2 separate regions of the Homo sapiens genome follow, and region 2 is linked to region 1. Evidence: fine-mapped expression QTL. A gene starts in region 1. The other region holds a variant in brackets. All regions are shown on one strand. Distances are from middle to middle.

Evidence for each region. PIP is the estimated chance that this variant, and not a neighbour inherited with it, causes the effect. A credible set is the group of variants that fine-mapping cannot tell apart.
Region 2: its variant is the best candidate, but not a certain one, in a credible set for the expression of FRAT1 in B cells (Schmiedel 2018, PIP 0.60).

What each region holds. Positions count from the first base shown.
Region 1 is chr10:97,317,165-97,321,422 of GRCh38, reverse strand. It overlaps FRAT1 (FRAT regulator of Wnt signaling pathway 1), which reads right to left and starts at 2,152. Exons shown (of 1, transcript NM_005479.4): 1 at 1-2,152. The coding sequence starts at 1,969. The coding sequence ends at 1,130. RefSeq lists enhancers at 768-927, 2,017-2,311, 2,049-2,838 and silencers at 1,268-1,367, 1,868-2,177.
Region 2 is chr10:97,231,762-97,236,019 of GRCh38, reverse strand. It overlaps ARHGAP19 (Rho GTPase activating protein 19), which reads left to right. Exons shown (of 12, transcript NM_032900.6): 9 at 705-803. It overlaps ARHGAP19-SLIT1 (ARHGAP19-SLIT1 readthrough (NMD candidate)), which reads left to right. Exons shown (of 15, transcript NR_037909.1): 9 at 705-803. Among named protein-coding and RNA genes, the nearest start is that of SLIT1, 48 kb to the right of the region's middle. The variant TTTA/A (reference allele first, on the strand shown) is at 1,602.

The sequences.
Region 1 (4,258 bases):
GCTAGGCTGTGTGTCCCTGGAGTGTCCATCACATGGCGTCTCCCTAGCCCCCAACCCAGGCCCCCAGGATCCCAGAGCCACCCGCTTGAGTAGGACTGCAGAGCCGAGTAGGAGAGGAGGAACCCAGGGCCCGGTCTCGGGAGTTTCCGTGAAAGCCCGGAGCGCGGCCAGGGGCGGTGGTCGCCTACCGAAGCACAGCCGCCCAGCACGTCCGCGCTTTCCCACACCCGCGGTGGCGGCGACGCGCGTGTCCTCAGGAGACTCCAGCACTTGCAAAACACTGCGCTCTTCTCCGAGCACCGGCAGAACCTGGCTACTCTGTCCCGCAACCCAGTGCGTGCCCAGGAAACAGTGACCTTGAACCGAGGAGAGGCGGGCCGGCTCTGAAAATACACTTTAGACAGGGCGTGGGGTTCACTCCGCGCCTCTCTACCCTTCCACCACCATTCAATACTCCCCGCCCCCACCTCCTTTCCCCACCCGTGTCGTACAGCCTTCCCCCACCACTCTGAGAAGAGAGACAGTTGCAAAGAGAGCGCAGGGGTTAACTCCTATTCAACCCCCAAAGGGTCCCTTCATGGCACCGCATGTTTGGTATTAAGCAGCACCTCCAAAGACACAAGATGGTTTTTTTAAGTCTGGCAGATTGGGCTGCACCCTGAAATTATCTACTCATGTTCTCCTCCCCCAAAGTGGATCAGGAGCCAGCCCTGAAAAGGTAAAGCAAGTAACTGGCATCATCCTCCGTGGTTCCGGCGCACCGCGATCCGGAGAAGCGTGGATTGTGGCCACATGGTCGCGGGGCTGGAGGGCACTGAGAGGCTGCGAGGAAATGCAGGCTCCGCGGCCAGGTCGGGTCACGCCAAATAAGGAGTCCTACTGACTTGTACGTTTGAGGTGCGCTCTGTAAAATCTGCCTTAAATAGGGCCAAAGTCCTTCATTCCAAATATTTTGGCCCTCAACCCCAGTTACCCGCGAAACACTCGCGATTTTTCGGTTCCTCGTCATTAGCTTTTTACTCTCGCTTCCAAAAGCCAGAGTTCTCCACCAGCCTGAGTAGAACTGCAGCCCTCAAGGGAACCCCTTGCCCTCCAGTCTGAGGCTGGCGCTGTGGCCACCCCGGGCGTGTTAGCTGCCAGGCACAAGAACGCCGTCGCCAGTTCTGAGCTGCGCCCTCCCGGAGGCGCCAGGGTCACTGCAGGCCGCGCGAGGGCTGCGAGGCGAAGGGGGTTCATGCACCGGGGCCGACAGAGGTCCCAGGAGCGGGCGTTGGGGAAGCTTTGCACGTAACTGCAGCCGTCGCGAATGAAGCCTTCGCACGGCCTCCTTGATGAGGTTTCCAGAGAGCACTAGCTGCTGCAGAAGCCGGTGCGGGTCGTCGTCGCCTGTGCGGGTTTCTGGTTGGGACCCGCGTCGCTGCTGCAGGCGGCGGGAGGCGGCGGCGCCCCGGAGCCATCCTCGCCGGCACGGACCCGACAGCGGCTGCGGGATGCCCTGCTTGCCAGCTCCCGGAGGCCCATCAAGGTCGGCCTGAGGGGGCAGTGGGGACAGCGCGCTGGGGCCTGTGGCGAGCTCGGCCACGCAGTAGGGCGCAGCGCGGCCCCGCACGCGGCCGCGGTCCCCCAGGGCGCAGCGCAGGACCCCAGGGGGCGCCGGGCCCACAGTCTCCGCCAACGCGGGCGGCAGCAGCAGCGGCACCGCCGGGGACCTGGCCTTGTCCGCCGGCACCGCCGCAGCCAGGGGCCCCGGGGCCCGCAGCGGCGCCCCCGGGGGCCCGCACGGCGAGGCCGGGCTGTGCTGCGCCGCGTCCAGCTGCAGCGTCTCGCCGATCTGGGCCACCAGCCGGTCCACCTCGCCCGAGCTGCCCAGCGCCACTGACTGCTGCAGTAGGAGGAAGCTGTCCTCCTCCTCTTCCTCCCCCTCCGCCTCCTCGCCGGCTTCCTCTTCCTCCTCCCTCCGGCACGGCATGGCCCCCTGTCTGGGCACCCGGAGCTGTGCGGGCGTCGCTGGGGGCTCGGCTGCCGGCGGGCGCGGTGGGCCGCGGCGGAGCGGGCGCGGAGCTGAAGACTAAGTCTGGACCGGGGCCGGGGCGGACGCGGAAGCCGGAGCCCGCCAGGCACTCTAGCCGCGCGCCTGCAGCCGCGGGAGCCGGAATCCTGCCGGCTCGGGTTGATTTGTAAACAATGGGTGACGTCACGTCGGGCCCTACCACCGCGCCGGGGAGGGGGTGCTGTGCCGCTGGGGGACGGCGCTTCTGTGGGATTGGGGGTCTGGGTGAAGCCGGACTGCCTTCTGAGCTCCTTCGCTCAGGGTGCTGTCTGCAAGGGCGCCCTGGGGACCTGATCCTGGCTCCCGCAGTCGGGCGCGATTGGCATTTCCAGAAATGGGCACCAGCGTGAACCCTGTTGGTTTCTTCCACACACAAGCAAGCACGCACACTAACACACACCCACCCACCCACACACCCCTTCTCTCCGTGCGTCAACTCAACCGGTTTTTAGCGTTTGCGCTTTTGAGGTCCGGCATGCGGGCGTCTGGTGAGGATGGAAAGGAAAGGGAGTCAGGCTAGGGATTTGTACGGAGATTAGGGAAATGAAGCTGACGGGAATGGAAAGGAAGAAGGGGACCTTGTCGTTCGATGGAGGTGGCAGAGTTGGAAATGGCAAAGAAAGGCCACAGATTAATGTTTTTTGATCGAGATCCTGGGCGGATGGGGGCCTGGACTGGGGTTGGCATTGCTGGAGAGGAGGTTGCTAGTCTTTTTGTTTATTTGTTTGTTTGTTTTTTTGAGACGGAGTCTCGCTCTATCGCCCAGGCTGGAGTGCAGTGGCTCGATCTCCACTCACTACAACCTCCGCCTCCTGCGTTTAAGCAATTCTCCTGCCTCAGCCTTCCGAGTAGCTGGGATTACAGGCGCCCACCACCACGCCCGGCTAATTTTTGTATTTTTAGTAGAGACGGGGTTTCACCATGTTGGCCAGGCTGGTCTCGAACTCCTGACCTCAGGTGATCCACCCGCCTCAGCCTCCCAAAGTGCTGGGATTACAGGCGTGAGCCACTGCGCCCGGCCTAGGTTGCTACTCTTTTTGTTTTGTTTTGTTTTTTTGAGACAGAGTTTCGCTCTTGTTGCCCAGGCTGGAGTACAATGGCGCAATCTCCGCTCACCACAACTTCCGCCTCCTGGGTTCAAGCAGTTCTCCTGCCTCAGCCTCCCGAGTTGCTGGGATTACAGGCATGCGCCGCCATGCCCAGCCTAATTTTGTGTTTTTAGCAGAGATGGGGTTTCTCCATATTGGTCAGGCTGGTCTGGTACTCCCGACCTCAGGTGATCCACCTGCCTCGGCCTCCCAAAATCCTGGGATTACAAGCGTGAGCCACCACGCCTGGCTATAGGTTGTTAGTCTTAAGAGGGGCTATGTCCAGAAAGTTGTTTAAAAAAAAGCCTCAGACCAGTAGGGGGGATGGGCTCTGAGGAGGTACGTAGTAGCAGAGAAAAATACCTGTTTGGATGAAAATGGAGATACGCTTCCTTCCTTCCTTTCTTCCTTTTCTTTCTCTTTCTTTTCTTTCTTTGACAGAATTTCACTCTGTCACCCAGGCTGGAGTGCAGTGGTGTGATCTGGCTGATTGCAGCCTTGACTTCCCAGGATCAGGTGATCCTCCCACCTCAGCCTCCCGAGTAGCTGGGACAATAGGCACGCGCCACTACACCTGGCTAATTTTTGTATTTTTAGTGGATACAGGGTTTCGCCATGTTGGCCCGTCCGGTCTCAAACTCCTGGACTCAAGCAATCCCTCCTCCCGAAATGCTGGCGTTACAGACATGAGCCACCGCGCCCAGCCTGGAAGCAACTTTAAAATTCTGAGCATGATATAGAAAATAGGATACAAAGAAAGAAATGAGCCTGGAGATCCAGATAAATAGAAAACGAGGGTCTTGTTGGGCAGTTCCAACGATAATAATTATAGGAGCAAACCTTTAGGAAGGGATGAGTGCAGGAAAGAGGTAGGGAAGTTGGTTTAAAAAGAGTTGGGTTTGTTTTTGTCAAGTGTGGAGGAAAAAATGTAAAAACAGAGGAAGAGACAGTTTAAACAAAGCCATTGGATTTCTAATCTACGAAATCTGGATTTCTACAGGGTGTCATAAGGTTCATCACCTTGTTTTTGTGGATTCCTTAGGATTTTCTATATAGAAGATCGTGTCATCTACAAATAGAGATAGTTTTGCTTCTCTTCTTTTTCTTTTTTCTTTTCTTT
Region 2 (4,258 bases), 85 kb after region 1:
TGGCAACAGAGTGAGACTCTGTCTCCAGCAACAACAGCAACATCATCAACAATCTGAAAAGGCAGAAGAGTAGAAGAGTTAAATGCTATATTATTATTACTTTTTAAGTGGGAAATGAATGGCTAATCAAAGCATTGAATAAGATTATTCAATGCATTGGGTCTTCTCGTTTTCCACTTTAGATACCTCCAGAGAGCTGATGTTGATAGCATTGACAAGTCTGCATTCTGATGTATTTCCTCTGATGGTATTGTTGTCAGGCAGTCATGATAGATGTCCATTTAAAGAGTTTTAGTAACTTAAAAAAATTCTGTATGCAATTTATGTTAAATTAGGGACTGTTTTAGATTGTGCCAGTAACTGTGTGGTTCCAAGATGCTTTGTTGCAAAAAAGTCTTGGTTAGCAGCTGGGGATCGTGGATAAATTTCATAAGCTCTCCAAGTCTCAGTTTTTTTGTCTGTAGAATGGGGACAGTAATTCCACATTCAAGGAATGTGGCGTGCAGAGCCCCTCAGAGCACTTGAATCCACTTCTTTTGGCATCATCATTTCTGACTTTGTGATTGGCTTTTTGACCTCCTAATCCATCTATGCGCAGACTCAGTTTTTCCTGGACTTTTATTTACACTTAGCTATTAGTTGTCACAGAATGCCGTGTCTTGATGGGAAAGTATTTATAAAATGTTCTCCATGTTTTCTTTTAGTTTAATAAGCAATCATTGACCCAGACACCAGGGCGAGAACCTTCTACTTCCCAGGTACAAAAGAGGGCTCGTTCGCGCTCCTTCAGTGGGCTTATTAAGGTAGGTATGCTGGGCTGTCGTTTTCAGCATTGATTTTTAGGAAATGTAACAATGTGATTTTTCTTATGCATAAAAAGTTTTCTTCTGTTTTTTGGGGACCCTATAAAGGGCTAGTTTATAAGGGGGTAAAGACAAAATGTTGAAAAGCTTTTATATTGCAAAGTGCTTTGCTGTGTTGCACATCAGAGAAGGGGCTCTGTGACGTGAGGAGTAGAAGTAAGGGTCCTTCCTTTTCTTCTGGGGCTAAGGGGCTAAGGACAGAGTCTGCATTCCTGAGCAGTGTAAGAGGCCCTTTTGTTTTCTGATCAGCTTCGAGTTACACACTTCTTTATGCAATTTGGTAAACCTGTGGAGAAGTGAGGAAGTTGAGACAGACTAGGGAAACTGTTAGAAAACTGGATTTTCCAATAGGCTAGTGAGTTTTGATACCCCAAATTTTTGTGAGCTTAATATTTTTAACAGTTGTTGTACTTTCTTCCATGTATCAAATTCAGTAAAAATCTTGTTTTTAAAACAAATACAAAATATGCTTCTATGTTATTGCTGCTATCACCATGTTTGCAGATTAAATTTATAAGTCTTCAAACTATCGGAACATGTAGTGAAGGAATATTGCCATCAGGTGGCAGTAGATAACTTGATCATGGGGTTCAAATTTCCATGCATGAACTAAGGCAAGGTTTTGGTTAACTTGGAGAGAGATGAGTGCTATATACACTGCTTTTCTTTTCTATTTTTCTTTTTTGGAAGAGATTGCTGCCCCAAAAGCACTGAGTATCTTTTTTTTTTTTTTTTTTT[TTTA/A]ATTTTTATTTCTGGGTACATGTGCAGGATGTGCAGGTTTGTTATATAGGTAAATGTGTGCCATGGTGGTTTGCTGCACCTGTAAACCCATCACCTAGGTATGAAGCCCAGCATGCGTTAGCTATTTTTATTTTTTTAATTTTTTTTTGAGACAGAGTCTCGCTGTTGTCGCCCAGGCTGGAGTGCAATAACATGGTCTCGGCTCACTGCAACCTCCCCCTCTTGGGTTCAAGCGATTCTCCTGCCTCAGCTTCCCAAGTAGGTAGGATTACAAGTGCCTGCCACCATGCCCAGCTAATTTTTGCCTTTTTAGTAGAGAGGGGGTTTCACCATGTCGGCCAGGCTGGTCTGGAACTCCTGACCTCAGGTGATTCACCCGCCTCAGCCTCCCAAATTGCTGGGATTACAGGCATAAGCCATTGCGTCTGGCCAGCTACTTTTCTTAATACTCTCCTTCCCCCCACTCCACCCCCCAACAGGCCCCAGTGTGTGTTGTTCCCCTCCCTGTGTCCATGTGTTCTCATTGTTTAGCTCCCACTTTTTTTTTTTAGATGGAGTCTCTCTCTGTCACCCAGGCTGGAGTGCAGTGGCTTGATCTCAGCTCACTGCAGCCTCCGCCTCCTGGTTTCAAGCCATTTTCCTGCCTCAGCCTCCCAAGTAGCTGGGACTACAGGCGTGCGCCACCATGCCTGGCTCATTTTTGTAGTTTTAGTAGAGACGAGGTTTCACCATGTTGGCCAGGCTGGTCTCGAACTCGTGACCTCAAGTGATCCACCCGCCTTGGCCTTCCAAAGTACTGGGATTATAGGCATGAGCCACTGCACCCGGCCAGCTCCTACTCACAAGTGAGAACATGTGGTGTTTGGTTTTCTGTTCTTGTGTTAGTTTGCTGAGGATGGCTTCCTTTTGTTTTTATTTTTGGTGTTTTGCCCTGCTTTTCTTTTAAAAATTACTTTGTTATTAAGATATATAATTCCAGCAACACAGGGAGCTCTTTGCTTAAAATTTAAAATTTTTGCCCTAAAAATAAATAACTTGTAATATTTATTTATTTATTTATTTTTGAGACAGGGTCTTGCTCTGCTGCTCAGGCTGAAGTACAAGTGGCACCATCATGGCTTATTGCAGCCTTGATCTCCTGGGCGCTCAGCGATCCTCCTACTTCAGCCTCCCAAGTAGCTGGGACCACAAGTGCATGCCATCATACCTGGCTGATTTTTAAATGTTTGTAGAGATGGGGTCTTGCTGTGTTGCTGGTCTTTTTTTTTTGAGACAGTCTCGCTCTATGCCTCAGGCTGGAGTGCAGTGGCGTGATCTCAGCTCACTGCAACCTCCATCTCCAGGGTTCAAGTGATTCTTCCACCTCAGCCTCCCTAGTAGCTGGGATTACAGGCGCCCACCACCATGCCCGGCTAATTTTTTGTATTTTTAGTAGAGATGGGGTTTCACCATGTTGGCCAGCCTGGTCTTGAACTCCTGGCCTCAAGTAATCTGCCCGCTTCGGCCTCCCAAAGTGCTGAGATTATAGGCGTGAGCCACCATGCCCAGCCTGTGTTGCTGGTCTTGAATTTCTGGGCTCAAGTGATCCTCCTGCTTTGGCCCCCTGAAGTGCTGGGATTACAGATGTGAGCCACTGTGTCTGTAATTTTTTTTTTTTGAGGTACAGCTGTTAGCATTTACAAATTCATCTTACTGTAATTTTGGTCCTAGTTATAATTTATAGATATCTAGAATTCACTCTCAATCCTGACCTCCTGGGGCCAGTAGCTTCTAGGACATTAGGCTTACTTGACATCAAAATTTCCTTTGCCATCTACAGAGTGAAAAGGCAACCCTGGATTGGGAGAAAATATTTGCAAATCATATTTATGATTAGGGATTAATATCCATAATAATCTAAAGAACTCCTATAACTCAACACAGCAAAAACAACCTCATTAAAGAGTGGGCAGAGGCCGCGCACAGTGGCTCACGCCTGTAATCCCAGTACTTTGGGAGGCTGAGGTGGGCGGATCACGAGGTCAGGAGATTAAGACCATTCTGGCTAACACGGTGAAACTCCATCTCTATTAAAAATACAAAAAATTAGCCGGGCATGTTGGCATGTGCCTGTAGTCCCAGCTACTCAGGAGGCTGAGGCAGGAGAATCGTTTGAACCCAGGAGGCAGAGGTTGCAGTGAGCCGAGATTGAGCCACTGTACTCCAGCCTGGGTGACAGAGCGAGACTCTGTCTCAAAAAAAAAAAAAAAAAAAAAAAAAAATAGTGAGCAAAGGACTTAAATAGAAATTTCTCCAGAGAAGATGTACAGATGGCCAAGAAACACATGAAAAGATGTTCAACATCACTAATCATTAGGGAAATGTAAATCAAAACCACAATTAGATACCACTTCACACCCACTAGGATGACTATTATTAAAAAAAAAAAAAAAAAAACAACGGAAAATAACAAATGTTGATGAGGATGTGGAGAATTTGGAACCCCTATGCATTATTGATAGGGATGTAAAATGGAGGAGCCACTGTGGAAAACAGTATGGCAGTTCCTAAAAAATTTAAATAGAATGACCTTGTGATCCAGCAATGCTACTCCCGGTATATAACCAAAAGAATTGAAAGCAGGGTCTTGAGGCAATATTTGTACACCCGTATTC